Linked DNA regions of Homo sapiens. The main gene of each other region encodes a partner of the protein of the gene in region 2 in a complex. Each region holds a gene or a part of one and is shown on either strand. Other genes may lie near its edges. The genes, in order: MED12, MED19, MED13 and MED4.

The links.
Region 1: MED19 (region 2) and MED12 share a complex: the UniProt entries of both Homo sapiens proteins name them as parts of the mediator complex.
Region 3: MED19 (region 2) and MED13 share a complex: the UniProt entries of both Homo sapiens proteins name them as parts of the mediator complex.
Region 4: MED19 (region 2) and MED4 share a complex: the UniProt entries of both Homo sapiens proteins name them as parts of the mediator complex.

Annotation. Positions count from the first base shown.
Region 1 is NC_000023.11:71,135,583-71,142,608, forward strand, and holds the end of MED12 (mediator of RNA polymerase II transcription subunit 12), read left to right. Parts: intron 1-698; coding exon 699-1,073; intron 1,074-1,296; coding exon 1,297-1,447; intron 1,448-1,604; coding exon 1,605-1,801; coding exon of another isoform or gene 1,802-1,810; intron 1,811-1,975; coding exon 1,976-2,053; coding exon of another isoform or gene 2,054-2,143; coding exon 2,144-2,361; intron 2,362-5,052; coding exon 5,053-5,275; coding exon of another isoform or gene 5,276-5,386; exon of another isoform or gene 5,387-5,647; coding exon 5,648-5,788; intron 5,789-6,300; coding exon 6,301-6,382; intron 6,383-6,592; coding exon 6,593-6,636; 3' UTR 6,637-6,868; downstream 6,869-7,026. UniProt on the Homo sapiens protein: Component of the Mediator complex, a coactivator involved in the regulated transcription of nearly all RNA polymerase II-dependent genes.
Region 2 is NC_000011.10:57,703,194-57,709,225, reverse strand, and holds the end of MED19 (mediator of RNA polymerase II transcription subunit 19), read left to right. Parts: intron 1-3,996; coding exon 3,997-4,253; intron 4,254-4,410; coding exon 4,411-4,507; intron 4,508-4,590; coding exon of another isoform or gene 4,591-4,604; exon of another isoform or gene 4,605-4,829; coding exon 4,830-4,924; exon of another isoform or gene 4,925-5,119; coding exon 5,120-5,188; 3' UTR 5,189-5,516; downstream 5,517-6,032. UniProt on the Homo sapiens protein: Component of the Mediator complex, a coactivator involved in the regulated transcription of nearly all RNA polymerase II-dependent genes.
Region 3 is NC_000017.11:62,055,277-62,062,302, forward strand, and holds part of MED13 (mediator of RNA polymerase II transcription subunit 13), read right to left. Parts: intron 1-7,026. UniProt on the Homo sapiens protein: Component of the Mediator complex, a coactivator involved in the regulated transcription of nearly all RNA polymerase II-dependent genes.
Region 4 is NC_000013.11:48,092,103-48,099,909, reverse strand, and holds the start of MED4 (mediator of RNA polymerase II transcription subunit 4), read left to right. Parts: upstream 1-4,805; 5' UTR 4,806-4,831; coding exon 4,832-4,956; intron 4,957-7,807. UniProt on the Homo sapiens protein: Component of the Mediator complex, a coactivator involved in the regulated transcription of nearly all RNA polymerase II-dependent genes.

The DNA.
Region 1 (7,026 bases), on a different chromosome or scaffold from region 2:
TTATTTCTGTGTTTCCCTACACCCACCCATCTCTGCACACTTTTATCTTTTCCCTCTCTGTCAGTTGCGGTATTTGTTGAGTAACCATAATTATTGTGTATAGTTTAAAACCCAAAGTCTAACTCCTTCATATATACATTCTCTTCATCTGTCTTCCTAGTCCATCTGTCTCTTTTCCTCCGTCTCTGTCTCTCTCCCTGTCTGACTCGTTTGCCTTTCTTTGTCTCTCCACCTTTTTGTCTCTCTCTTCCTGTTTCTTTCTCTCTCTGACTCTTTCTCGGCCTGCCTAAAGGCAGAGTCTCTCCCTGCCTTCCTCTCTCTCTTTCTCTGCCTTCCTTTTTCTGTCTTCCTCTGAATGTCAATCCCTCTCCCTCCCCGCTCCCTCTCTGGCTTTCTCCCCAACCCCTTTCTCTCCCGATCTTCTCTCCCCACACGCCCCCCGCCCCGTTAGTTCATCTCCTCTCCTGGTCTGGGCTGGCTTCATCTTGTGCCTCCACACCTCTCCCTGTGCCCCACCCTTCACTCTCTCCCCGCATAACTCTCTTCCGCATGTATATGTGTATCCATGTCTGTCTGTCTGCTTCTTACCATCTCTCCTGAATCTGCCTATGACTTTCTTTCTACCCATTCCTACAAATGCTTGCAGTCTTCTGTTTTCTAAGTCCCAACAGCTTATTGTTTTTCATTTTCTGGAGCAGGGTCTACAGGTTTCCACCAAACAGAAGATCTCGCCCTGGGATCTTTTTGAGGGGTTGAAGCCGTCAGCACCACTCTCTTGGGGCTGGTTTGGAACAGTCCGAGTGGACCGGCGAGTGGCTCGAGGAGAGGAGCAGCAGCGGTTGCTGCTCTACCACACACACCTGAGGCCCCGGCCCCGCGCCTATTACCTGGAGCCACTGCCACTGCCCCCAGAAGATGAGGAGCCGCCTGCTCCTACCCTGCTAGAGCCTGAGAAAAAGGCTCCAGAGCCCCCCAAAACTGACAAACCGGGGGCTGCTCCACCCAGTACTGAGGAACGCAAGAAGAAGTCCACCAAGGGCAAGAAACGCAGCCAGCCAGCTACCAAGACAGAGGTGAGCGCCTCCCCCGTGACAGTTCTCCCACAGCCTCTCACTTCATGACGCTCCGGTTTCTGGTTTGTGGGAGGGGTGGGGGCGCATAAGGAAGGGGTGCCATTAGAATCATAATAAAAATTAACCATATACGAATTCAGCTCCTCTTTACCTCATTCTCCCCCAGCTCCCCGACCCCATTCAGCTACAACCCACTCACCCTCTTCCTCTGCCACTCACACAGGACTATGGAATGGGCCCGGGTCGGAGCGGCCCTTATGGTGTGACAGTGCCTCCGGACCTCCTGCACCACCCAAACCCTGGTTCTATAACACACCTTAACTACAGGCAAGGCTCCATAGGCCTGTACACCCAGAACCAGCCACTACCTGCAGGTGAGTGCCAGCCACTAGGAATGCTGGAGGGACCTACCTGTACACTCCCCCTGCCCAAAGGATGATGCCATTCCCCTGAGGAGCTATGGATGTCAAGGACACTGAGCAAGAGACAGAGGGATGAGGAGCCTAGAGGTCAGCCCACTCTCCTTTTCAGGTGGCCCTCGTGTGGACCCATACCGTCCTGTGCGCTTACCAATGCAGAAGCTGCCCACCCGACCAACTTACCCTGGAGTGCTGCCCACAACCATGACTGGCGTCATGGGTTTAGAACCCTCCTCTTATAAGACCTCTGTGTACCGGCAGCAGCAACCTGCGGTGCCCCAAGGACAGCGCCTTCGCCAACAGCTCCAGGCAAAGATAGTGAGAGGGGCAGTAGGGAGGGCTGTCAGGGAGAGGGGCTTTTGAGGGTCACAGGACGGAGGAGACACTTGGGATCTTCACAAGGACACTCAGGGTGGGAGACACAAGAGATGAGATGGCAGCAAGCATTTCCTGAGTTTGAGTTGTTCTCTTTTCTCCCTTTAGCAGAGTCAGGGCATGTTGGGACAGTCATCTGTCCATCAGATGACTCCCAGCTCTTCCTACGGTTTGCAGACTTCCCAGGTAAGAGCCTGGGATTGTGAGACTAGGGGGATGAGGCAAGCTGCTCTGCATACTCTCGGCCCTGATTCCCTCTCTCCTTCTTCCCTCCAGGGCTATACTCCTTATGTTTCTCATGTGGGATTGCAGCAACACACAGGCCCTGCAGGTACCATGGTGCCCCCCAGCTACTCCAGCCAGCCTTACCAGAGCACCCACCCTTCTACCAATCCTACTCTTGTAGATCCTACCCGCCACCTGCAACAGCGGCCCAGTGGCTATGTGCACCAGCAGGCCCCCACCTATGGACATGGACTGACCTCCACTCAAAGGTACCCAAAGTAGTGGTGAGCTAGGAAGAGATGCAGAGGTATAAGGGAGCATTTGACTTGGGAAAGCCTGTGCCTGAAAGTGGTGGGACTGGTCAGAACTTTCGGAGACATCAAGAATACTTATCTGGCCACATAGCCCATAACCACAGAAGTCTCGAGCTGGAAGGGACCCTGGAGACCAATAGTTTCATGACTACTTCCTTAACAGTTCTTTGAGGCCCAGAGAGGGGAAATTGTTTATCTGACTCAAGGAAAAATCTGGGCTGGGTGTGGTAGCTCACACTGGTAGTCCCAGCACTTGGGGGCCCAAGGTGGGAGAATCAGTTGATTCCAGGAATTCGAGGCCAGCCTGGGCAACATAGGGAGATCCCATCTCTACAAAAAAAATACATATTTTTTTGAAACAGAGTCGCACTCCATTTGCCCAGGCTGGAGTGTCGTGGCATGATCATGGCTCACTGCAGCCTCGACCTCTGAGGCTCAGGTGATCCTCCTACCTCAGCCTCCCAAGTAGCTAGAACTACAGGCACACACCACCACGCCCAGCTAATTTTTTGGATTTTTAGTTGAGATGGGGTTTCGCCATGTTGCCCAGGCTGGTCTTGAACTGAGCCACCACACCTGGCCAAAAAAAAATTTTTTTTTAATTAGACAGGCGTGTTGGTGCATGCCTGTAGTCCCAGCTACTCAGGAGGCTGAGGTGGGAAGATTGCTTGAGCTTGGGAGTTTGAGGCTGCAGTGAGCTGTAATCGCACAATGAGCCGAGATTGTGCCACAGCACTCCAGTGGTGACAGAGTGAGACCCTGTCTCAAAAAAAAAAGAAGAAAGAAAAGAAAAAGAAAAAAATATCTGGAGTTCATAGATGAACTACATGATAAGGAGTCGTAAAGCCAGTACCGGCTTTGAATACCAGGTTAAATACCAGGATGGACAAATGAATGAATCCTCCCACCATGGTTAACGTTAGTCAAGCCTTAGTTGAGGCCTTGTAACCATGTATAGAGACTCTGAAGCTTAGGATTAAGAACACTGGGGAGTGGGCTAACTGCCCATTGTGTGGCCAGCACTATACCAGGACTGGGTGAGGTGAAGAAAGATAGCAAAAAAAACCCCCACGATACATAGTTCCTCACTACAAAGAATCTTTACTATAGCTGGGGAGATGAGACTTATAGAAGAATATTGAGAGAACACTCTGAGCAAAGATATAATCAGGTATGCAGTTGTATGCTATGAGGTAAAATGTGGATTGAGAAAAAGTACGTGGTAATATCTGTGGGCCTGACTCATCAGAGAATGTTTCATGAAGGAGGTCAGACTTGAGTTGGCCTCTGAAGAATAGCTGTGATTGGGATTTGTGGAGAAGAGGAAAAGAAAGGGCATTCCAGGTAGAGGATGTAACGTGAACAAAGACATGGGGACCAGAATGAGGATGGTGCCTGGGGAGAAGGGCCTGGATGGAGTGTAAAATCTGTGCTGGGGAAGTCACTGGGGCTAGGCTAGGAGGGGGCAGGCTGAGAGATGGCCTTGAATGCTCAGCCGAAGAATTGAGACGCAGTCCCAGAAAGGGCTCTTTTGATCAGAAGAGTGATAGGAGGAGTTGGGTATGTTGCAAGGTTCCTTGGAATGAATGGATAGGATGTGTACTGGAAGGTGCAAGAAGAAGACTTCAGGCCAGGCACGGTGGCTCATGCCTGTAATCCCAGTACTTTGGGAGGCCCAGGCAGGCAGATCACCTAAGATCAGGAGTTCGAGACCAGCCTGGTCAACATGGTGAAATCCCGTCTCTACTAAAAATACAAAAATTATCTGGGTGTGGTGGCATGTGCCTGTAATCCCAGCTACTTGGGGGGCTGAGGCAAGAGAATCACTTGAACCTGAGAGGTGGAGGTTGCAGTGAGCCGAGATCGCATCATTGCACTCCAGCCTGGGCAACAGAGTGAGACTCTGTCTCAAAAAAAAAAGAAGACTTGAGACGGGGAGCCTGGCCAGTAGACTCTTGAAGTGATATACACATGTGGTAGAACAACTTGAAATGTTATTTGGGAACAACAACAGCAACAGCAAAAAACCTCAATGAGTGTTTATAGAATGCCTATCTTGTGCTAAGACTATTTTTTTCTTTTCTTTTCTTTCTTTTTTTTTTTTTTTTTGAGATGGAGTCTCGCTCTGTCATCCAGGCTGGAGTGCAGTGGTGCAATCTTGGCTCACTGCAACTTCCACCTCCCAGGTTCAAGCAATTCTCCTGCCTCAGCCTCCTGAGTAGCTGGGATTACAGGCATCCACTACCACGCTCAGCTATTTTTTTTTGTATTTTTGCTAGAGATGGGGTTTCACCATGTTGCCAGGCTGGTCTAGAACTCCTGACCTCAAGTGATCCACCCACCTTAGCCTCCCAAAGTGCTGGGATTACAGGTGTGAGCCACCGCACCCAGCCCTATTTTTCATTTTTGTAACAGAAAAATAGCTAATGCAGAATTGAAAAATTCCTAACCATTAAGGTTATGAGACACTAAAATAGAGTATCATCTTATGCAACTTATTCCCCAGACTGGAAGTCTGGTTAGTGACACGAGGAATGAATGAAATAACCTGCTAACGTTTCTTTCAGGTCAGGGACCCAAGGTTTATACTGACCCCCTCTCCTCACCTCCCTCATGCCTTGACCTCTGACCCTCTTATCTTTGGAGGTTTTCACACCAGACACTGCAGCAGACACCCATGATAAGTACCATGACTCCAATGAGTGCCCAGGGCGTCCAGGCAGGCGTCCGTTCAACAGCCATCCTACCTGAGCAGCAGCAGCAGCAGCAACAGCAGCAACAGCAACAGCAGCAGCAGCAGCAACAGCAACAGCAGCAGCAGCAGCAGCAGTACCACATCCGGCAGCAGCAGCAGCAGCAGATCCTGCGGGTAAGGCACTGGGATTTCATCTGGGACCTGGGAGCCCAGGGAGGAAGAGAGGCACAAGTTCTTCCCACACAGTTACCGAGACTAAACAAGGCAGTGTACCAAAACACCTAGCAGAGCGGCTGGCCTCTAGTGGTGCTGGAGAAGTTTTCTACCCTCCCCCTTTTTGTTTTCTGGGGATCATAGTGGGAGAGAGTTGGACATTGTCTGCTGGGTACCCTAGATTTGGTTTCTTTCTGTGCAGCTGTCTAAAAAGGGAAGGCAGTAGACCCCGAGCTCCCACCCTGCTTCCTCATCCCCTGCCCTCAGCCCTTTAGTTCTGAGGCTTAGCTTCCTCCCTCTGCTCCTTCTGAAGTATCTTTTGTGTTCTTATAGCAGCAGCAGCAACAGCAACAGCAGCAGCAGCAGCAGCAGCAACAGCAACAGCAGCAGCAGCAACAGCAACAACAGCAACACCAGCAGCAACAGCAGCAACAGGCGGCTCCTCCCCAACCCCAGCCCCAGTCCCAGCCCCAGGTAGCTGCTGGACTACAGCCCCAGGCTCAGGGACAGCTGCCCAGGTTGGGCACGCAGCCAGTGAACTGGGTTGGGGACAGTATGGAATAGGGTAGAGGTGGGAGGCAGGGCATGGCACCCTAAAAATGGATTGGGAGGCCAGGCGCAGTGGCTCACGCCTGTAATCCCAGCACTTTGGGAGGCCAAGGCAGGTGGATCACTTGAGGTCAGGAGTTCAAGACCAGCCTGGCCAAGATGGTGAAACCCCGTCTCTACTAAAAATACAAAAAATAATAATAATAAATAAGCCGGGCATGGTGGCAGGTGCCTGTTATCTCAGCTACTCAAGAGGCTGAGGCAGAGAATTGCTTGAACTTGGGAGGCAGAGGTTGCAGTGAGCCAAGATCATGCCACTGCACTCCAGCCTGGGGGACAGAGCGAGACTCCATCTCAAAAAAAAAAACGGATTGGGAAAGGAGGTTGAAGAAGGAGAAAAGTTCGACTTCAGTCTTCCACTTCCTATTTCCACCCAGTTCCAGCGCCAGGGGCTTCAGCAGACCCAGCAGCAGCAACAGACAGCAGCTTTGGTCCGGCAACTTCAACAACAGCTCTCTAGTAAGCCTGCCTGCCTTCCCAAGGAGAACCCCATGGAATAAATTTAGGGGGCGGGGTGGGCCAAAGTAGCTGAAACGATAGCTTCAGGCCCAGGTTATGAGAGGAGGCATTCCATTCCATCCCCTTCCCTCGATACCTGAACAGCTTTCCTCGTGCATACCCACACCCCTGCCTGGTCTTCCATCCCTGATAATCTCTGGTTTTTCACAGATACCCAGCCACAGCCCAGTACCAACATATTTGGACGCTACTGAGCCACCTGGAGGAACTGCTTGTGCACTGGATGTGGCCCCACCCTTTCCTCTTAATTCCCAATCCCATTCCTGGGCTAGCACCAGTAGTGGTTGGGGCCCTCCCCTCAGGCTCCATTTTTAATAAGTTTTTAGTATTTTTGTTAATGTGAGGCATTGAGCTGTTGGGTTTTGTATATTATTTATATAGAGACCCCAGAGCTGTTGCACCCAATACACAGAGCTTCTTTGCAAAGGGAGTGTGCGAGTTCTGCATGTCTGGGAAGGGTGGTCTCTTGGGAGAATGCAGGGGGTTGGACCAACAAGTCAGAGTCTTCATTCTATTCTGATCATCTCCCCTGTTTACCTTACACTCTAAAATTTCTTTTTTTCTTTTTTTTTGAGACGGAGTCT
Region 2 (6,032 bases):
ATTTTTAGTGGAGACAGGGTTTCTCCCTGTTGGTCAGGCAGATCTCAAACTCCCAACCTCAGGTGATCCGCCCACCTTGGCCTCCCAGAGTGCCAGGATTACAGGCGTGAGCCACTGCGCCCAGCCTCCCAGATGCCTTTCATTGTCTCAAGTCTTATTTCCACATCATGACTTGAGGGAAATAGCAACAAATATTGGTATAGTACTTTGAAGTTCACAACACACTTACATGCAGTATTTAATATAAGTAGTATTTAATACTTAGAATAGCCCTTTGAGGTAGCATTACTGTCTACATTTTATAATTGAAAAAACTGAAACATGGAGAAGTTGACATCCCTTTGATTAGTTAGTGGTTGATGTCCACCAGCGGTTTCTTTTAATCTTTCTTTTGCCTTCCCTATTCTGATTGTAGCTATTTGTATCAGTCAGTTGACAGATATTGAATATATGTTCTGGGCAAATGCTGGGTGTATGAGGCGGGTGAGATGGAGAGAGAGATTAGTAATGCTGGTCATTGCTTTTCAAGGAGTTTAGTTAGGAATGTAAAATTTGTGGTTTAAGGATAGTGACTATATTTCCTGTCACCTCCATCTCATTTTGTGCTCATGCCTCACAACAGCAATTAACAATATCTTAGCCATCAATATTAAGAACTACCTAATGGTTTTCAAAGTGTGTTGCTATCCAGAATGACAGTGAGAATAAGATGTCACTTGAGCTAGACCTTGAATAATCCATATTGGTGAAGAAAAATTAGGAAGAATTTTCCTAAGATGAAATAATGTGAGGGGTGTTTTTTTGAGGCGATAAGGAGATCCATTTGGATGGATCAGAAATTTTGCATAGGAGAGTAGTGGTTGATGAGGCCCCAAAGCTAAGTTGGAGTAAGATGTAATTAGCCTTGAGTGCCAGTCAAAGGAATTTGAGCTTTCTCCTGAGGGCAAAAAGAAACCATTAAGATTTGTGAACTGAGGAGTACTGATTTCCAAAAATATCTGGAACATGTGGGTGCCATGGATTGAAATAGAGAAGCCCTGAGTGATGTTGGCAAGATTTGGAATTTCAAAACAATTTTTTTTTTTTTTATCTTGTTGGGCAGGGTGGTTCACGCCTGTAATCCTAGCACTTTGGGAGGCTGAGGCAGGCAGATAGCTTGAGTCCAGGAGTTCAAGACCAGCCTGGGCAACATAGGGAGACCCCTGTCTCTACAAAAAATACAAAAATTAGCCTAGCATGGCAGTGTATGCATGTAGTCCCAGCTACCTGGGAGGCTGAGGCAGGAAAGTAGTTTGAGCCCAGGATGCAGAGATTGCAGTGAGCTAAGATTGTGCCATTACACTCCAGCCTGGGTGACAGAGCGAGACTGTCTCAAAAAATAAATAAATATAAAAAGTAATCTTTGTAGAATAGTCAAAACTGGAATTTGAACTCTCAAGTTACAGTTTAGAAAAAGCACAGACTGCCTTCTCACCTGAGCCTTAAGGATAACCATCTGGACAGAGGAGAGTTGGCAGAGCAGGGGAAATTCAGAAGATTGTAATGGCAAGAGGCAGTGCCCAGAGTTATGAGGAGAGATACTGTGACATTGGGTCTCCTGCCATTACCCTCGCTCAGTCTTCTGAGTTGTTTGGTAGTAAAGGGAAGGAAAAGGATGAATAAGGCCTAGAGGTATAGAGGGAAAGTGCCTTGTTTATTTAATAAATATTTATTAAGCACCTAATGTGTGTACTGTGCTGGGCACTAGCGATACATGAATGAACAAGACATTGTCTGTGCCTCCAAGGAGCTTACAGTTCAGTACCTCAGTTTTCCCAAGTGAATGATTATAAACAAGCCATTTTTGTCATTTGTACCCTCTGTGTCTATCATAATTACAAATGAAGTTGTAGTTAGCTATTTCTACCCTTGCTAGTAGGTCCTTATTAAGTTACTAATAAATGTATATTTTTTAAAAAAGAATCAGCCATGCAATATTTATATGGATAGTGCCTTGCATACATATAATACTTTTTTTTTTTTTTTTTTGAGATGGAATCTGACTCTCCCACCCAGGCTGGAGTGCAGTGGTGCAAACTCAGCTCACTGCAACTTCCACCTCCCGGGTTCAAGCAGTTCTTCTGCCTCAGCCTCCCAAGTAGCTGTGACTACAGGCGCATGCCACCACACCCAGCTAATTTTTGTATTTTTAGTAGAGATGGGGTTTCACCATATTGGCCAGGCTGGTCTCAAACTCCTGACCTCAGGTGATCTGCCTGCCTTGGCCTCCCAAAGTGCTGGGATTACAGGCATGAACCACTGTGCCAAGCCTGATACTTTATGCTTTTCAGCATATTTTCATTTGAACCTTGGGAGAAAATTATGTGTATGTAAGATAGCTATTATTCCATTCCACAGATAAGAGGAAACTGAGGCATGGAAGACAGCCAGAATAATTCTAGTTGCCTGACTTGTTTTTTTGTTTTTGTTGTTTTGTTTTGTTTTGTTTTTTTTGAGACAGGGTCTCACTCTCTCACCCAAACTGGAGTGCAGTGGCCTGATCTCAGCTCACTGCAACCTCCGCCTCGCAGGGATTACAGGTGTGTGCCACTACTGTCCAGCTAATTTTTGTATTTTTAGTAGAGACAGGGTTTCACCATGTTGGCCAGGCTGGTCTTGAACTCCTGACCTCAAATGAGCTGCCCGCCTTGGCCTCCTGAAGTGCTGGGATTACAGGCGTGAGCCACCGCGCCTGGCCATTAGTTGACTGACTTCTAATCAAACATTTCTTCCTGGATGCGTGCTGTGGCTCACACCTGTAATCCCGGCACTTTGGAAAACCGAGGCGGCGGGGGGTGGCGGATCACTTGAGGTCAGAAGTTCAAGACCAGCCTACTCAACATGGTGAACCCCCTTCTCTACTAGAAAAAAATTAGCCAGGCATGGTGGTGTGTGCCTGTGATCCCAGCTACTTGGGAGGCTGAGGTGGGAGAATCACTTGAACCTAGGAGGCGGAGGTTGCAGTGAGCCAAGATCGTACCCCACTGCACTCCAGCCTAGGCGACAGAGCAAAACTCCCGTCTCAAAAACAAAAAACATTTATTCCTTTTAGGCAAGGCATCATACTCAGTATCACGAGGAAGAATAAAGATGTTGGTAACAAGTTAGGCAGTGGTAGCTAGAAAAAAATCTCCCAGTTCTTTTCTTATGTAAAGGTGATTAGTGTTTCTTGCTAGTAAAAAAAAAAAAAAGTCCTTGACAAGACCCTTAAGTCACTGGGTCATATTTGGCCCCCTGAGCATGGTTGTAGCTGAGCTGCAAGGTCGTATTTTCCTAGCTGTGTCAGAGAATATAATTTTTCACTAATACATTTTATGAGAAACACTCAGAACAGCATTTACCACGAAGCAAGCATCATATAAATCAACTCCAGTTAATCTTAAGAGAGTGGAGTGTCTCCTTCATTGGGCTAGAGCAGTTCCTGTCTCTGCCCTATTGGATTTTTGCCTGTTTTTCCCCTTCCCATTGGAACCTACCATTGTGTTGTATTATACTTTTCATGTTATTTACTTTTGCTGTTTTTTTTTTTTTTTTTGAGACAGAGTCTCGCTGTTGTCCAGGCTGGAGTGCAGTGGCGCAATCTCAGCTCACTGCAACCTCCACCTCCCGGGTTCAAGTGATTGTCCTGCCCCAGCCTCCTGAGTAGTTGGGACTACAGGCACGTGCTACCACGCCTGGCTAATTTTTTGTATTTTTACTAGAGACGGAGTTTCACCGTGTTGTTAGCCAGGATGGTCTCGATCTCCTGACCTGGTGATCCACCCGCCTCAGCCTCCCAAAGTTCTGGGATTACAGGCATGAGCCACTGCATCCGGCCTGCTCTGTTTCTTTAAAAATAAATTTTAAATTTTAAAATCTGCACTTAAAAAATGTCTTATTTAGGTTAATATATAGTCCTTCACTCCCTGGGTCTACTTTGAAGACTGATCTTTTTTATTTTTATTCTGCGTTGTCTAGGTAGCACAGAGCTGACAGGCAGCACGAATCTGATCACACACTACAACTTGGAACAAGCCTATAATAAATTCTGTGGGAAGAAGGTGAAGGAGAAGCTAAGTAACTTCCTGCCTGACCTGCCAGGGATGATTGATCTGCCTGGTTCCCATGATAACAGCAGCCTCCGCTCTCTCATTGAGAAGCCCCCTATTCTCAGTAGCTCTTTCAATCCTATCACAGGGACCATGCTGGCCGGCTTCCGCCTCCACACTGGCCCGGTGAGTCCTGTTGGAGGAAGAAGGCAAATGGGGAGGCCTAAACATGGAGATGGTTTTTCTCTCCAAGTCTGTTCCTTCATAATGGAGCAGAATGGATGATAAGAGCAGGAGAGATTTCCTCCCTCTACTCACCTGGACCTTCCTTTGGTTCCTTCAGTTGCCGGAGCAGTGTCGTCTGATGCATATTCAGCCTCCCAAGAAGAAGAATAAGCACAAGCACAAACAGAGCCGTACCCAGGATCCTGTCCCCCCAGGTAAGAAGCAGTTCTATTCAAAGCAAAAAAAAAAAAAAAAAAAAAAAAACCTGACCTTCTGAATCTGGTTTGAACTTCCATAGGTAAACCCAGTTAAGTTCCGTATGGAGCTCTGGACTCCTAAATTCCCCTGAAGAAGAAACCAATGTACTGTGGTCTCTTGGGACTTGGGACAGGGACTCTAGCAGCACCTCTGTATCCTTTCTGGCCATTTGGACAAAAGCAGTTGCCCCGACTTGGGATTTTCCTGTAGTCTTCAGTGGTTCATAACAGTAGAGGATTTTGAGCTTTACAGGTGATAGGTACCTAATGTCTCCTACAGAAACACCATCTGATTCAGATCACAAGAAGAAGAAAAAGAAAAAAGAAGAGGATCCTGAACGGAAAAGGAAGAAGAAAGAGAAGAAGAAAAAGAAGGTAGAGTAGAGGCCTATTGCCACAACCCAGTGAGTTTCCCCAGATCTCACCCCTGTCCTAAATACCCTAGAGTTCTTTGCCTCAAGTTGGACCCAAGATTGAAAACCCAAGGCAGGTTGCAGGTTTCTCCTGTACAGCCTGATCAAAGCCAAGGCTAGTTCCTAGTTGTTCTTACCCTGCTTCTTTCTCCCCCAGAATCGACATAGTCCAGACCACCCAGGTATGGGCAGCTCCCAGGCCAGCAGCAGCAGCAGCCTACGCTAATAGGACCACTGGACTCTTTGCCAGGATGGCTTTTCCTGCTGTACTGAACCTGCTGATAAAAGCTGCCTTCCAGGCTCTTGGACACTGCCTTGGGAGCATCCTGCAGCTGGGACAGAGGCCAGCTCCTGTTGGGCTCAGTTGAGACTAAGTAAATTAGGAGAGAGAGGGACATGCTTTTGTAGGCTCATCCCAGTTGGTTTTCTCATGGACATCTCTTCCTCTCCCAGGAAGCTTACAATTTTCTTCTCTCTCTTTTGTGCAATTTGTCTGATTTAGGACTTGTTCTGTGTTTTCTTTAAAAAAAAAAAAATTACATTTATCAAACTGGCTGAAGTGTGACTGCCTGTTAAGAGGTATGTGCCTTTCTGTGAATCAGGATTTAAGACAAGGCATTCCTAAGACTTGAGGGGATTTGGGTCTTGTCATTACATGATCTCACTAGCAGGCAGGGAACCAACCAAAATGAAAAGTGACCCAAGCTTACTAATACTCCACAGCAGACACGTAACACTCTGCCCATTATGTTGAGAACCAAGCGCCTCGGTGATCTCAGGCTCCATCTGAAGAGCTGATCCAGGTAGGGCTCAACAGTGTATTCTAGGTCAATTTTGTGTCGAAAGAGAATAGCCAACTGAAAACACATGGACAGTCACCCATGTGTTTCAACAAGATTGGTTCTTTAGGTCAGAAGCCTGTGATCTTTTGAGATGAACTTCTGGCAAGCAAAGGTAAAGCTTCCCTTCTCTTTACAAGAACTTTTGACCTGCTTCGGTCCTTAGTTAAGACAATAAAGTTATTTAGCTGATGTGAAAACATTTCTAAAACAGCAACAAAATGTAGCCTA
Region 3 (7,026 bases), on a different chromosome or scaffold from region 2:
CTACTCAGGAGGCTGAGGCATGAGAATCACCTGAGCCCAAGAGATGGGAGTTGCAGTGAGCTGAGATCACACCACTGCACTCCACTGTGGGCGACATAGCGAGACTCTGACTCAAAAAAACAAAAAAAAAAACCTTTGCAATAGTAAAAGCTAAAGCACAATTTATAAATTTTCACATGAAATTCTGAAAATTTTATGGTTTTATTTTGTAAAATCTATTTTAGTTAAACTTGCAGTCAAATGATTTAAGAATATTTAATGTGAGGCCATGTGCGGTGGCTCATGCCTATAATCCCAGCACTTTGGGAGGTCGAGGCAGGTGGATCATCTGAGGTCAGGAGTTCAAGACCAGCCTGGCCAACATAGTGAAACCCCATCTCTACTAAAAATACAAAACTTAGCTGGGCGAGATGGCATGCACCTGTAGTCCCAGCTATCCGGGAGGCTGAGGCAGGAGAATCACTTGAACTGGGTGGCAGAGGCTGCAGTAAACCGAGATCACGCCACTGCACTCCAGCCTGGTGACAGAGCAAGACTCCATCTCAAAAAAAAAAAGAATATTGAATGTGGTTTAGAAAAGTAATCAGTATTAATCTTGAAGCATTTCTCCCTCATTATTCTAATGCTTTCAGAGGGGGTGGGCATCTTATGTCCCCAGTGCCCACAATTCTCATTAACACTAAATAGGAGCTATGCATAAAACAAACAAGTAGAGACCACCTGTTGAGGTTTTCTAAATCCAACGTATCTCTGAAGTATGTCCTCATCTATATGGCAAGCAACTAAGCAACCATTACACTAAAGTAATATAATTTCATATTTTGTTGCTGAGAAAAACGAGAGTAAGTCCTAATAACGCTCAATAAAGTCTGAAGGTTTTTGGTTTTGTTGGGAATCACTTAGAAACAAGAAGCCTACTGAGCCAAGTTTCTAATATCCTGACAATCTAATAACTGTAATAAAAGTACTTTCTACACGTTGTATTCAGATACGAAAAGTGAAATGGTACAACCAACCCACTCAAGGCATAGTGATATGCACTATTTACACTAATTGAAACAAGTTCTTGAATCTCAACACCAGCATTATAATAGGGAGGGGAAGGAGAAGGGAACATATGGCAAATCTTTACCTATCTCTTTTGAACTTAACCAGAGCCTAATAGAAAAAGTCTGCTTAATCTATATAACTATTTTCCTCCTCTAGCCAGGTGCAATGACTCATGCCTGTAATCCCAGCTACTTGGGAAGCTAAGACAGAAGGATCACTTGAAGCTAGGAGTTCAAGACTAGCCTGGCAATACAGGAAGACCCTGACTCCAAAAAACTTTTTTTAGTTAGTAGGGCATAGTGGCAATGCCTGTAGGCCCAGCTGCTGGGGAAGCTGAGGTGGGAGGATTGCTTGAGTCCAGGAGTCGGAGGCTGCAGTGAGCTATGATTAAGCACTGCAGGCTGAGTGAGACAAAGTGTGACCTCCATCCCTACAAAAAAAAGAAAAAAAAATTCCTTCTCTTGTAGCTCTATGTCCAGAGAAAATAAAGTTCAACTCTGCATTCTTAGTACTTTTCTGTTACTATTAGCATTACAGTTCTTAATCATCAGTGTTTCTTGAAATTTTTATGGACTATTTATTGGAAGAAAACACAAATGCTAAATTTGATTACCATATTTTTTTCCTGAAGATGCAGATTACAGTAGTGCCAAAGTATGTGATAAGTCATCAAAATAATTCTCTATCAATGGGGAAAAAAAATCACAACCAAAAAAGCAGACACACCCTGCACTCAACATTTTTCTCAAAAAAATGGCATCTTTAAATATCTCCACGGTGGTAAAAAATGAATCTTCTCCAATACAATTTTGCAAAACTATTAAAATGTAACATATGCTAATGAATAATGGCTCAAAAATTAACATGGTAGAAAATACCATGTATTTCCTGAAATAAAGAGAAATGTTTAAATGCTAGATCAGTGTTTCTCCTGAATAATCATTAATAACCTATACATTCAACAAATATACCGAGAGCCTTAAGTTGGCCGCATCATTATCTATGGCAAAACTTGAAAACTGATTTAAAAACAGCCTAGTATGTTATGTTTGGCTTGAAAACTTAGAAGATACACTTGATCAAAAAAACAGTATGCAGAAGAAATACAGCAAATGAAGTTGTCACCTAGGAGACTAGCCAATTTAAAGAGTCGGGCCACATCACAAGTAAATTTTACAATAGTAGAAATAAATTACTCTCTTTAGACTATGTGGGGCACACAACAATGTTTTAGTTTGGCTGGGACTAGATTCCTATGCCTGGCTGTTTATCTATCTGTCAATCCTATTAACAGCTGTCATTTAAGGTTAAAGTCCACTACAGTTAATATCCTTCAATTAAAACATCCAAAATTAAATTCAGAACAATAGTCCACTTAGTTTGAGCACTATTCATTATGATAAAATTCTGGTATAATAAAACTATCTGAACATGTTACTAAAATCTACTTTACAGACCTCAGGAGCCAGGAAAAAGAACAAATATTTTTAGCCCTGAGTTTTTTTAGTTCACAAGGTATCAGTTTTCTCAAAGAGTCTCATCACAGTCTAACTTGCTATGATTTTTTTAAGATGACAAATGGGAGAGGACGCAGTGTTTGCTTTTATTTTTATTTAAAGGGAAAGAATAAAAGCCAATGATGACAGCAATTGAATTCCAAAAATGTTAGAACACAGAATAAAAATACACAGAAAACTCTCCTTCAAGACCACATTAATGAAAATGATACAATCTTGCTCTGAAGCAAATTAACAGTACACTTAAAAGTACCAGTCCTACCCACCACAGAGATTCTTGACCAGAGGGACTGAGCTAAGATTTTCCCATCACCCATTTTATACCTCTTTCACCCACTATCACACAACCACTAAACAAAGCTACAAAATACAATTTTTAAAAAAAAGGGGCCAGGCATGGTGGCTCATGCCTGTAATCCCAGCACTTGGGGAGGCTGAGGCGGGCAGATCACCTGAGGCCAGGAGTTCCAGACCAGCCTGGCCAACATGGCGAAACTCCTATTAAAATCTCTACCAAAAATACAAAAATTAGCCAGGCGTGATGACACATGCCTGTAGTCCCAACTACTCGGGAGGCTGAGGCAGAAGGATCGCTTGAACCTGGGAGGCGGAGGTCGCAGTGAGCCAAGATCGCCCCACTACACTCCAGCCTGGGAGACAGAGCGAGACTTCATCTCAAAAAAAAAAAAAAAAAAAAAAGAAAGAAAGAAAGAAAAAAGCTGTAACCCCAAAGGAGTTTTATTCCCTAATCCTTTTTGTATCAAAACATATCGACCCCGATTCAACTAATCATTATCCTATAGAGGATAAAGCAAAAAGTAAGAAAATCATCTATGTTTGGCTTTGGAATTCAAGAGATTTTTTGAACAAATAACCTTCTGGAATGTTATAGTTTGGCTAATACTAGTTAGCACAAATCCTGATCCAAAAATCATCCAGCCTTTGCAAATTACTTTGCTCAACGGTATTGACTTACTGCTACAAAATGAGTAACTGAGGGTTTAAAGTATGTATTAAATCAGACGTGATTTGCTGTAACTGATCTTTGCCAGTTAGCAATAAAATAAGTTTACATTCTATTTCTACACATCAGCTAAACTTGAAAGGAAGGTAACCCAAACAAATGCTAAGTGACATAAGAGAAAATGAAATTTAAAATGCACTATGGAATCTGAACAGATTCTTCAGAACTGTCGAAATCATCAAAACCAAAGAAAGTCTGAGAAACTGTCACAGTCTAACAAAGCCTAAGGAGACATGACAATTAAATGTAATAGGGGTATCTTAAATGAGATCCTAGAAAAGAAAAACATATTAGGCAAAAAAATAAAGGAAATCCAAATATATACTTTAGTTAATAATAAAGTATCAATATTGGTTCATTAGTTAATTTTTAAAAATACACTGCATGACACAAAGGAGCTAAGGGGGTTAAACAAAGGCAATTCTGTATTTCTGTTACTGAATATTCCAGTTAAGAAAAACTGAGAATTCTAATCTTTGAAAAAAGAAATGCTTTCCCTCTTCCCTCACTACCAAGAAAAACAAGGGCAATATTATCACCATAATAAAAAACACTTCAGTAACAAGATGTGGTGTGTGCTGAACCAAACAGAAGGACACTGCCTGTGAAGAGCAGGCTCAAGCTAAATTAACCAGCTTTTTAGTTACCACCTGGGTCCTTCCGGTACCCCATTCCTCAGTGCTACACCTCCACTTGGAACTCAGGACTGCCTCCAGCAGCTGATGCTACCCTGTACTGTCCAGCTGCTCTCTTCTCAGGGGAGCTTAGAAGAAGGAAATAGAGTGCCACAGATGGAAGAAATGAAAAAGGGGTTAGCTAGAGAGACAGAGGCAGACTAATTACCCCAAGAGGGAGGTAGACGCTGTCCCTAGAGCAAAGAAAAGGGCAAGACAAATATATTCCATCTGAAAAAACCTTATTATGCTTTAAGATACGTCTGATTTAAGTAACAACATTCTTAAGTAAATAACAGGTTTTATTTTTAAGAAAAGCTAAAATATTATATAAATAACACTGACTATGCAAACTAAAACAGTACAGGACAAGCTTTGGAACAATAAATATGATCATATACCACTCCTAATTGTATTTCAGTTTATTATTTCAATCACTTCACTTTGATAAATTTTTAAGTTATTTACGGCCAGGTGCAGTGACTCACGCCTGTAATCCTAGCACTTTGGGAGGCCGAGGCGGGTGGACTGTCTGCGCTCAGGAGTTCGAGACCAGCCTGGCGAACACGGTGAAACCCCATCTCTACTAAAAATACAAAAAATTAGCCGAGTGTGGCAGCATGTGCCTGTAATCCCAGCTACTCGGGAGGCTGAGACAGGAGAATCGCTTGAACCCAGGAGGTGGAGGTTGCAGTGAGCTGAGATTGCGCCACTGCACTCCAGCCTGGGCGACAAAGCAAGACTCCATCTCAAAAAAAAAGCTATTTACCATTCATTAGCATTCAGTAAAGTCTGACAGCAGTTAAAACCCTACCTCCTGCCTGTAATCCCAGCAGTTTGGGAGGCCAAGGCTGGCGGATCACAAGCTCAGGAGATCGAGACCATCCTGTCTAACAGTGAAACCCCGTCTCTATTAAAAATACAAAAAATTAGCCGGGCGTGGTGGTGGGCGCCTGTAGTCCCAGGTACTCAGGAGGCTGAGGTAGTAGGAGTATGGCATGAACCCAGGAGGCAGAGCTTGCAGCAAGCAAGCTCCACTGCACTCAGAGAGCGAGATCACGCCACTGCACTCCAGCCCGCGGGACAGAATGAGACTCCGTCTCAAAAAAAAAAAAAAAACCAACCTCCCAAAATTATTTTCATTCACGTTCAAGATCACTATCTATTTTTTTTTTTGAGACAGAGTCTCACTCTGTCGCCCAGGCTGGAGTGCAGTGGCAAGATCTCGGCTCACTGCAACCTCCGCCTCCTGGGATCAAGCAATTCTCCTGCCTCAGCCTACTGAGTAGCTGGAACTACAGGTGCGTGCCACCATGCCCAGCTAATTTTTGTGTCTTCAGTAGAGATGGGGTTTCACCATGTTGGCCAGGATGGTCTCTATCTCCTGACCCTGCGATCTGCCTGCCTCAGCCTCCCAAAAGTGCTGGGATTACAGGCGTGAGTGAGCCATGGCACCCAGCTGATCACTATTTTAAAGGTACAAGTAACTACCATTTTTGAAAATTACGCTAAAAATCAAAGCTAGAGAAAAATGTTTAAGACTGTAACCTAGTTTCAGTGGAGAAAACATATCTGACTGGTAACATGAAACCTAGAAGACAAAACTGACTTTTAACAATATCCATCAAAGCAGCTCACATCTAACTTTAATAGTCTTTTAACTTTCACAATATTTTTTCTATTACGGTAAAACTAGGCCAGGTGCAGGGGCTCACACTTGTAATCCCAGCACTTTGGGAGGTTAAGATGGAAGGATCACTAGAGTTCAGGAGTTCAAGACCAGCCTGGTCAACACAGCAAGACCCCATCTCTACTTAAAAAGAAAAAAAGAAAAAAAAAATTAAACATTATGTATCTCTTAAAATTATCTTTGATTCTACAAAGTGTATTTCATGGAATCTTAAAAAAAGATCTGTTTAGTCTGTTTAGATGCTCTGCCAACTTTATTAAGAAGACCAAAGCCCCTAAGTCACCATTATAGTTTTATCAATAATTATGTTTTATCAACAAATATATTTTATCAATAGTTTATAGTTTTTCAACAATGTTATACAGTCTCCAAACATTCTAGTAAGGTGATTTTTATGACCACTTAACGATTAAAATAACTCAAATACTATATCCAAAACAATGAAAGAAAAAGGAGGCTGGCGGACTTAGCTTTTGGCATAATTAGAAAGTATTGTCTCGCTAAAACTACCATATATACATACATCATGTATATGTACATATATGTATATACATATACACATCACTTTACACATTTAGAACTACATTAAATACACACAACTAAGGACTGGACTCTGCAGCAGGCATCTTATTAGAAAAACTACAAAAGCTGGAAAGCTTTCTTGAAGAATTGCAGTCACTCTCAAAAATAACAATTAACACTGGAGAGTATGTTCATTAGAATGTGAAAAGCAATTATCAAAACATACAAATGTAACACGTACATTCCTACATAAATGTTGGTCTTACTAAGTACCAGTTCAAGATACAGACACCTAGAATACATTCTATCCAAAAATAAAATAGATCCTATAGGTCAGAGATACAATAACAAAAACTTCAGAGTACTCAATTTCAAATAAGAACTTAAAAAAAATTATCTAGAAATCCTAAGTTTATCTGTCAAAAATCATTATCAAACTATCTTACTGAAGTCTTTGGAACCTTATAGCATACAACCAATCATTTATATTCCTATTATCTAAGATTCAGTTAATACTGACTTTCACAATTTAAAGCTTCAGTAATTATA
Region 4 (7,807 bases), on a different chromosome or scaffold from region 2:
TGCCTTAAAAAAATAAAATAGGCCAAGCATAGTGGCTCCTGCCTATAATCCCAGCATTTTGAGAGGCCAAGGCGGGCAGATCACCTGAGGTCAGGAGTTCGAGACCAGCCTGGCCAACATGGCGAAACCCCATCTCTACTAAAAATACAAAAATTAGCCAGGCATGGTGGCACATGCCTGTAATCCCAGCTACTTGGGAGGCTGAGGCAGGAGAATTGCTTGAACCTGGGAGGTGGAGGTTGTAGTGAGCTGAGATCGTGCCACTGCACTCCAGCCTAGGTGACAGAGCAAGACTCTGTCTCAAAAATATAATAATAAAATTAAAAAAATTTTTTTAAAGATACATAGTGTATTCAGCTATCTATTCCGCCTACCCTTAGGGACAGCCTTGGTTGAGTTTCTCGCTGCACCTCCAAACCTCCACACCAACTGCTTGCAGCTGCTTTTTGCTCAGAATTTCAAGCTGTGCATTTATTTGATAGTGTTTGTATGAGGGGTTCTTCAAAAAGTTCATGAAAAGTGTGTATTATAGAAAAACTATAGATGCATTTCAAAATATTTTTCCACCAAAATAAAGTCATACTAACTTGTTATAACATGTATGAACAGGATCTAGTTTGAGGCACAAGAAGGATAAGACATCAGTTTGACAAGAGCCCCTATCAGAACAATATGAATTCTACTAAAATTGAAGCAAGAATATCAAATTGATGGTGAAGCTTGTGTGGAAGAATGGTGAAATCTTGATGCTTTATGAAAAGTTTATGAGGACAATGCCCTAAAGAAATCAGCAGTTTTACAAATAGAAAACTCATTTGAAGAAGGGATGAGATGATGTTGAAGATAAAGCCTGCAGCAGCAGACCATCCACATCAATTTGCAAGGAAAATATTTATCTTGTTTGTGCCCTAATTGCAGAGGACAAGCAATTAATAGACAACACTATAGACATCTCAATTTGTTCAGCCTATACAATTCTGACTCAAAAACTAAAGTTGAGCAAACTTTCCAATCAATGGATGCCAAAACTGTTATGCCCAAATCACCTGCAGACAAGAGCAGGGCATTCAATGGAAATTTTAAACAAGTGAGATCAAGATCCTGAGGCACTTCTTTGAAGAGCTGTAACAGGAGATGAAAAATGGCTTTACCAGCACAATCCTGATGATAAAGCAAAATCGAAGCAATGGCTATCAAGAGGTGGAAGTGGTCCAGTCAAAGCAAAAGCAGACCAGTCAAGATCAAACAGCATGGCAACAGTTTTTGGGATGCTCAAGGCATTTTGTCTGGTGACTTTCTGGAAAGCCAAAGAATGATAACAATGGCTTATTATGAGAGTGTTTTGAGAAAGTTAGCAAAAGCTTTAGCAGAAAAACACCCGAGAAAGCTTCACCGGAGAGTCCTTCTCCACCACAACAATACTCCTGCTCATTCCTCTCATCAAACAAGGACAATTTTGGAAATGTTTCAATGGGAAATCATTGAACATCCACCTTACAGTCCTGATCTGACTTCTTTTTGTTTCCTAATCTTAAAAAAATCTGGGCCAGGCTCAGTGTCTCATGCCTGTAGTCCCAGCACTTTGGGAGGCCGAGGGGGGTGGATCACTTGAGGTCAGGAGTTTGAGACCAGCCTGGCCATCATGGCAAAACCCCATCTCTACTAAAAATACAAAAATTAGCTAGGCATGGTGGCACATGCCTGTAATCCCAGCTACTCGGGAGGCTGAGACAGGAGAATCACTTGAACCCGGGAGGTGGAGGTTGCAGTGAGCCAAGATTGTGCCACTGCACTCCAGCTTGAGCAAGACAACAGAGCAAGACTCTGTCTCAAAACTAAATAAATAAATAAAATCTGTAAAGGGCACTCATTTTTCTTCAGTTAATAATGTATTGGGAGGATTGCTTGAGCCTGGGAGGTCAAGGTTGCAGTGAGCTGTGGTTGCACCACTGCCCTCCAGCCTGAGTGACAGAGAGTGAGACCCTGTGGCAAAAAAAAAAAGAAAAGAAAAAAGTAAAAAAGACAGCATTGACACGGTTAAATTCCAAGGGCCCTCATTTATTTAGGGATGAACTAAATGGCTGGTATCGTCATTTACAAAAGTGTCTTGAACTAGATGGAGCTTATGTTGAGAAATAAAGTTTATATTTTAAATTATTATCTTTTAATTCCATTTTTCCATGAACTTTTTGAAGTCCTCTCATATTTTAGGTCAGAGGTTCCCAGTCCTTTTAGTACCTGAATATCCTTCTTTCTTTACAGAGAGCTGGGATAACCAGTGGTAAAGAGCACAGACCCTGGAGCCAGACTCTGGGTTCAGATTCCAGCTTTGCCATTTACTATATGACCCCGGCATGTGTCTTAACATTTCTGCCCCTCAGTTTCATTATCTGTAACATAGGGATAGTAACAGTACTTACCTCATAGGAGTGTTAGGAAAATTAAACAAGTTAATATTTTTGAAGTGCTTAGAACACTGCCCACCATGTCAATAAAATTTCATGAGAAAGTAGTGTCCTTTTTGAATCTACAGATTGAGAAAATATGTACCTAACTCCAAATTACCATGAATTCAGTAATACTATATAAAATAATTCATATTTGTTTATCACGCCTGGATTTGTACAATTTGCAAGACAGTATATCTGTGAAAGATGCTATTACTTATCAGTCTATAGAAACTGTTTAATATGCATATGAATTTGCAATAAATCTGAGGAGGTCAGGAGTTCACAATACACATACATGCTCCACACACTGATCCTCAGTGTCTGCAAAGTAGGACTATAATTGGTCATTTTTAACTAATTAGAATCCTTCTAGAATTTTTATGTTTACACTAATATAATGTTCTCTCTCCTCCTACCAGAGTCATGGCTCAATATGACCCGTGAGAGTTGAGTAAACAAAACCAACACATACCGCAGAAGTTTGGCACCCTGGAAACTTAACATAAGAAATGATTGACTAGAGTACTGAGAGGCATGTTTAGAATGCAAGTGTAATGAACAAAGCTTCAATCTACTTTAGCCCATTGCCTGAGAATTGACTGCATTAACAAAAAAGGGTTAGCCAACAGCAGATGCAGGGAACGGTCAGAAAACAAAAGGTGACAAGGATCTCTTGCACTGTCTAGAGGAAAAGGTACCCTGACCTATGAACACAAATAATCCAATCTCTTGAACACAAATATCCCTACACTGTGGAGACACAAAGCCTCATGATTGTGTCATTAATTTTTAATCTATCCTTGTTTGTTCTGATCCAAGTTTAACAAGCAACATCCTGTGATAATATGGCTTCTCATATAGTTTTGTCTATGGGAAAAAGATATGTTTGGCACTATTACTTTTCATCGTAAGTGAGTAAATCAGCATTCTAGATTACGCAGCAGTTGCTATGAGTGAATTTATTTAACATGAATTTCTAAAAGACTTGTCAACTCTGGGTGCCCAGGAGTCAGGTTTAGCACCTCCAAAAAGACAGAGTAGAGGATGAGACCCTGAAATGAAAGGACTACAGGTACTACTACCTCATGGGAGTGAGGCAGTCCCAGACCATCTTTTATAATAGCAATATGGAATCCTCATTCCCAATAGGCTTGTAACTTTGCTTTTTTCTGGTAGAGAGTGATCCCTACTACATTGTTATCCCTAGGAAAAGTAGGCTAAGACGTATTTTTGCCTTTGACAACCAGTTCTGGTTTGGAATGTGTGGTACATCAATGACTTAAACTATGTTAATTAACTACTACTTATGTACTGTATTGGTTCCTTCAGTTCAATAATTAACCTGAGTAATGAGCAAAACATTTTGTTGGAAGATGTATGGCTATAAAGATGGATTATAGCAATGTGGAAGTAACCTAACTGTCCATCGTCAGATGAATGGATGAACAAAAGGTGCCATATGCATACAATGGAATATTAGTCTTAAAAAGGAAAGATATTCCAGCACATGCTACATCATGGATGAACCTGGAGGACATAATGCTGAGTGACATAAGCCAGACACAAAAAGACAAATACTGTATGATTCTGCTTATATGAGGTACCTAGAGTAGCCAAACTTACAGCAATGGAAAGTAGAATGGTGGTTGCCAGGGCCTGGAGAAGGGAGGGATAAGGAGTTAGCATTTAGTGAGTACAGAGTTTGTTTTACAAGATAAAAGGTTTTGGAGATGGATAGTTGCTCAACAGTATGAATGTATTTAATGCCACTGAACTATCCACTTAAAAATGGTTAAGGTGGGCCGGGTGCGGTGGCTCACGCCTGTAATTCCACCACTTTGGGAGGCTGAGGCAGGCGGATCACGAGGTCAGGAGATTGAGACCATCCTGGCTAACAAGGTGAAACCCCGTCTCTACTAAAAATACAAAAAATTAGCCGGGCGTGGTGGCGGTCGCCTGTAGTCCCAGCTACTCGGGAGGCTGAGGCAGGAAAAATGGCGTGAACCCAGGAGGCGGAACTTGCAGTGAGCCAAGACATCCGCGGCGATGCACTCCAGTCTGGGCAACAGAGCGAGACTCGTCTCAAAAAAAAAAAAAGAAAGAAAGAAAGAAAAAAAACCATTAGGCCCAGGAGAATCAGACTGCGTTGCCCCCACTGTTCTCAGTTCAGCTGTCGCTCCCAGGGTTTGGACCAGAAAGCCCTCGCCGGCCCAACAGATGGCGCCGGTGTCCGCAGTGCGCCTCCAGGCCCAAAGGGGGCGCTCTCGCCAGGCCTCTTTTTCCTCTCCTGGGTGACTCTTCCGCCTTCCGAGCCCGCCTTCTCGCCACGCACCTGCGTCAGCTCGCTCTGCGCGTGCGCCGGTGGCGGGACTCTGGGGAAAATGGCTGCGTCTTCGAGTGGTGAGAAGGAGAAGGAGCGGCTGGGAGGCGGTTTGGGAGTGGCGGGTGGTAACAGCACACGAGAGCGGCTGCTGTCTGCGCTTGAGGACTTGGAGGTCCTGTCTAGGTAATGCGGCGAGCCTGAGAGCCGGGCTGGAGCTGGGCCGGGGGACTGACCCCGGAGCCGGCCGGCCCTGCGTTTGTGCTCGTTCTCGGGGTTCGGCGGGGAGGGCCAGCTCGGGAGTTTCGGGTGCATGAGGGTCATGGACGTGGGGTCCGCAGCCCTCTGGCACTCTGGGCGGCGGTTTTTCCCGTTAGAGGGAATTTTAGTAATGATAAGAACTCGCGCGGTCTGAGCCTCTTCGTCCGCGGCCAGCCACTTAACATTTATGGAACGCTCCTTGGGGGCTCAGCATTGGGGAGACGGTAGTGAAGGGTAGACTGGATGCCAGCTGTCGAGAGAGAGACAGATGTGTAAACTGGCTTGGGGCCTGTTTTTATTAGAGGGCTGCGCTGCGGGGTACTGGAGCACAGGGACTAGGCACCTTTTTTGGTTGTAGTCAGGGCAGGCCCTCTGAAGAAAGTGCTGCTTGGGAAGCATGAGCTCGCCAAACTCACTAGGCAGCACAGATAGATGGAACAGCAAGTGCAAAAAGCCTGGCTTGGTGGAGTTGCAAGTTGTTTAGGATGGTTGTGTGTCAGAGATAGGAGATGAAATTAGATGTCGTTCTTCATATTCTGTCACCTTTCATGATAAGTCTTTCAAGTTGAAGCCTTCCTTGACTCCCTCCCATTGACTTGGATGGTAAATTATCTTGGTTCTACCTCCTAAAGTGTCGCTCCAATTTGCCCTCTCGTTCCAACCCCGCTGTTCATAACTCCTTCTTAAATGTAGCCTCCCAAACAGTTTTAATTGCCTCATGCTTCTGCACTTTATCCTTTTATATTGGCCGATACCAGTTTTAAAAGGCATCTTATATCACTTTTCTGCAGAAAAATTATATAAAAGCTACCTCATTGGTAGGTTTGCGTTGTCCAGTGAGGTAAAGTTCAAATTCTTTAGTCAGACTTCCACATCTTCAGTGCCATTCCCAGTCTACTCCCGATTTGGTGAATGATTCATATATCCTTCAGAATCCAGCTCAAATGTCACTTTTTCTATAGCCAACATTCTTTGACAGCTTTAGAATAAATCTTACCTGTTGTATTTTAAAATATACGTGATATAATCAGCACTTTATTTTTGGTGTAAATTTAGTCCTTGCCATCGTATTGCTACCAAGTTACCAGGTCAGCACAATATTTAATGATGGAAGAAAACCCGAAAACACCTAGACAGCAGAAATTAAATGGCTTATGTGTTTGATCCACTGTTTAAAATAAACTGTATTAGGGCCGGGTGTGGTGGCTCACGCCTATAATCCGAGCACTTTGGGAGGCCAAGGCGGGCGGATCATTGGAACTTCTTCACAGAATGAAGCTGCTCTGGTGGTGTGACTGGCTTCCAGAAAGGTCTCATGTGTTCACTCAGAGGTAGTTATGTGTACTGATTCTGTGATCTGTGAAGTTTGTCAGTCTCTGAATGTAATTTGTGTCTGGCTTGCATTTATGAAAATGAGAAGAAAAATCACGAATATACCTTACATATTTTTAGATTTAGCCTCTTTAAAAATAGTGGATTTATAACTTAGGATCTTTTTTTTTCTATTAACCTGATTATATAGCCTTTCGGGATATTTATTAGTTTATAAAATGTAATGCAAGGAGATAGTCTTAAAAAGTTGAAACACAGGTTGTAGGCTAAACGTTTTTTTTAACCCATTTGTAACTCAAAACTCATTGTTCCACAGAACCATGTTGATAGGAATCTTGAGTTTTCCACACCAGCCTGTTAATTCTGTTTACCTGAAAAGTGTATTACTGCTAATAATGTAGGCTCTAACCGCTATGGAAATTTTATTTCTATGGGGAATTGTGTCTGGATTCTAATGCAGTATGCTGGGAATGCACCTTCTTTTTAGCAGGACAGGGCTCTTGAGTGTGGGGGCTTCCTTTGGCCTCTTTTTCGCAGTTGGGGAGGACAGGGGTTTCTATTTTGTCCTGGACTGTTACAGAACATGACTAAGTCTTAGAGACTTCTACCTCCCCTCTACTCCGGCGCCTAAGGCAAGCCTTGTAAAGCCTTCTGTGGACTCACGCTCCCAGATTTGCAAGAACAGAGGAAGGCTTATCCCACATCTCCTACCATAGCCCCACTCTAGTCAGCACCACTCCTGCCCCACCTGAAACCAGCTTTTACTTAGACCAGAGGTTCTCAACCGTCTATGTCTCACTTGTGGCGTACACTAAAAAGTTTACTTAACATGCTGTTTTCATACGCTGTTGATCCATCAGCAAGTCCTGTTAGCTCTACCTCCAAAAGATATCTGAAATCTGTCCATGTTTCTCCCATCACGATTACTAAGTCCTGGAGGCTATAACCTCGTCAAAACCAGTGTCATTTTTTGCCTGGAACACTACAGAAACCACCTAACTTACTTCCTGTTCTGGCCCTCTTACAGTCTATTTACCAGATCACTCAACAGTTTTTAAAAGTATAAATCAGGTCATGCCATTTCCCTGTTTAAAATAACCCAGTGGCTTCTCATTGCATTTAGAATGAAACACTAGGCCGGGCGCAGTGGCTCATGCCTGTAATCCCAGCACTTTGGGAGGCCGAGGCCGGCGGATCACCTGTGGTCGGGATTTCGAGACCAGCCTGACCAACAGGGAGAAACCCCATCTGTACTAAAAAAAAAATACAAAATTAGCCGGGCGTGGTGGCACATGCCTGTAATCCCAGCTGCTAGGGAGGCTGAGGCAGGAGAATTCTTTGAACCCGGGAGGTGGAGGTTGGGGTGAGCCGAGATCGCGCCATTGCACTCCAGCCTGGGCAACAAGAGCAAAACTCCATCTCAAAAAATAAAAAATAAAAAAAG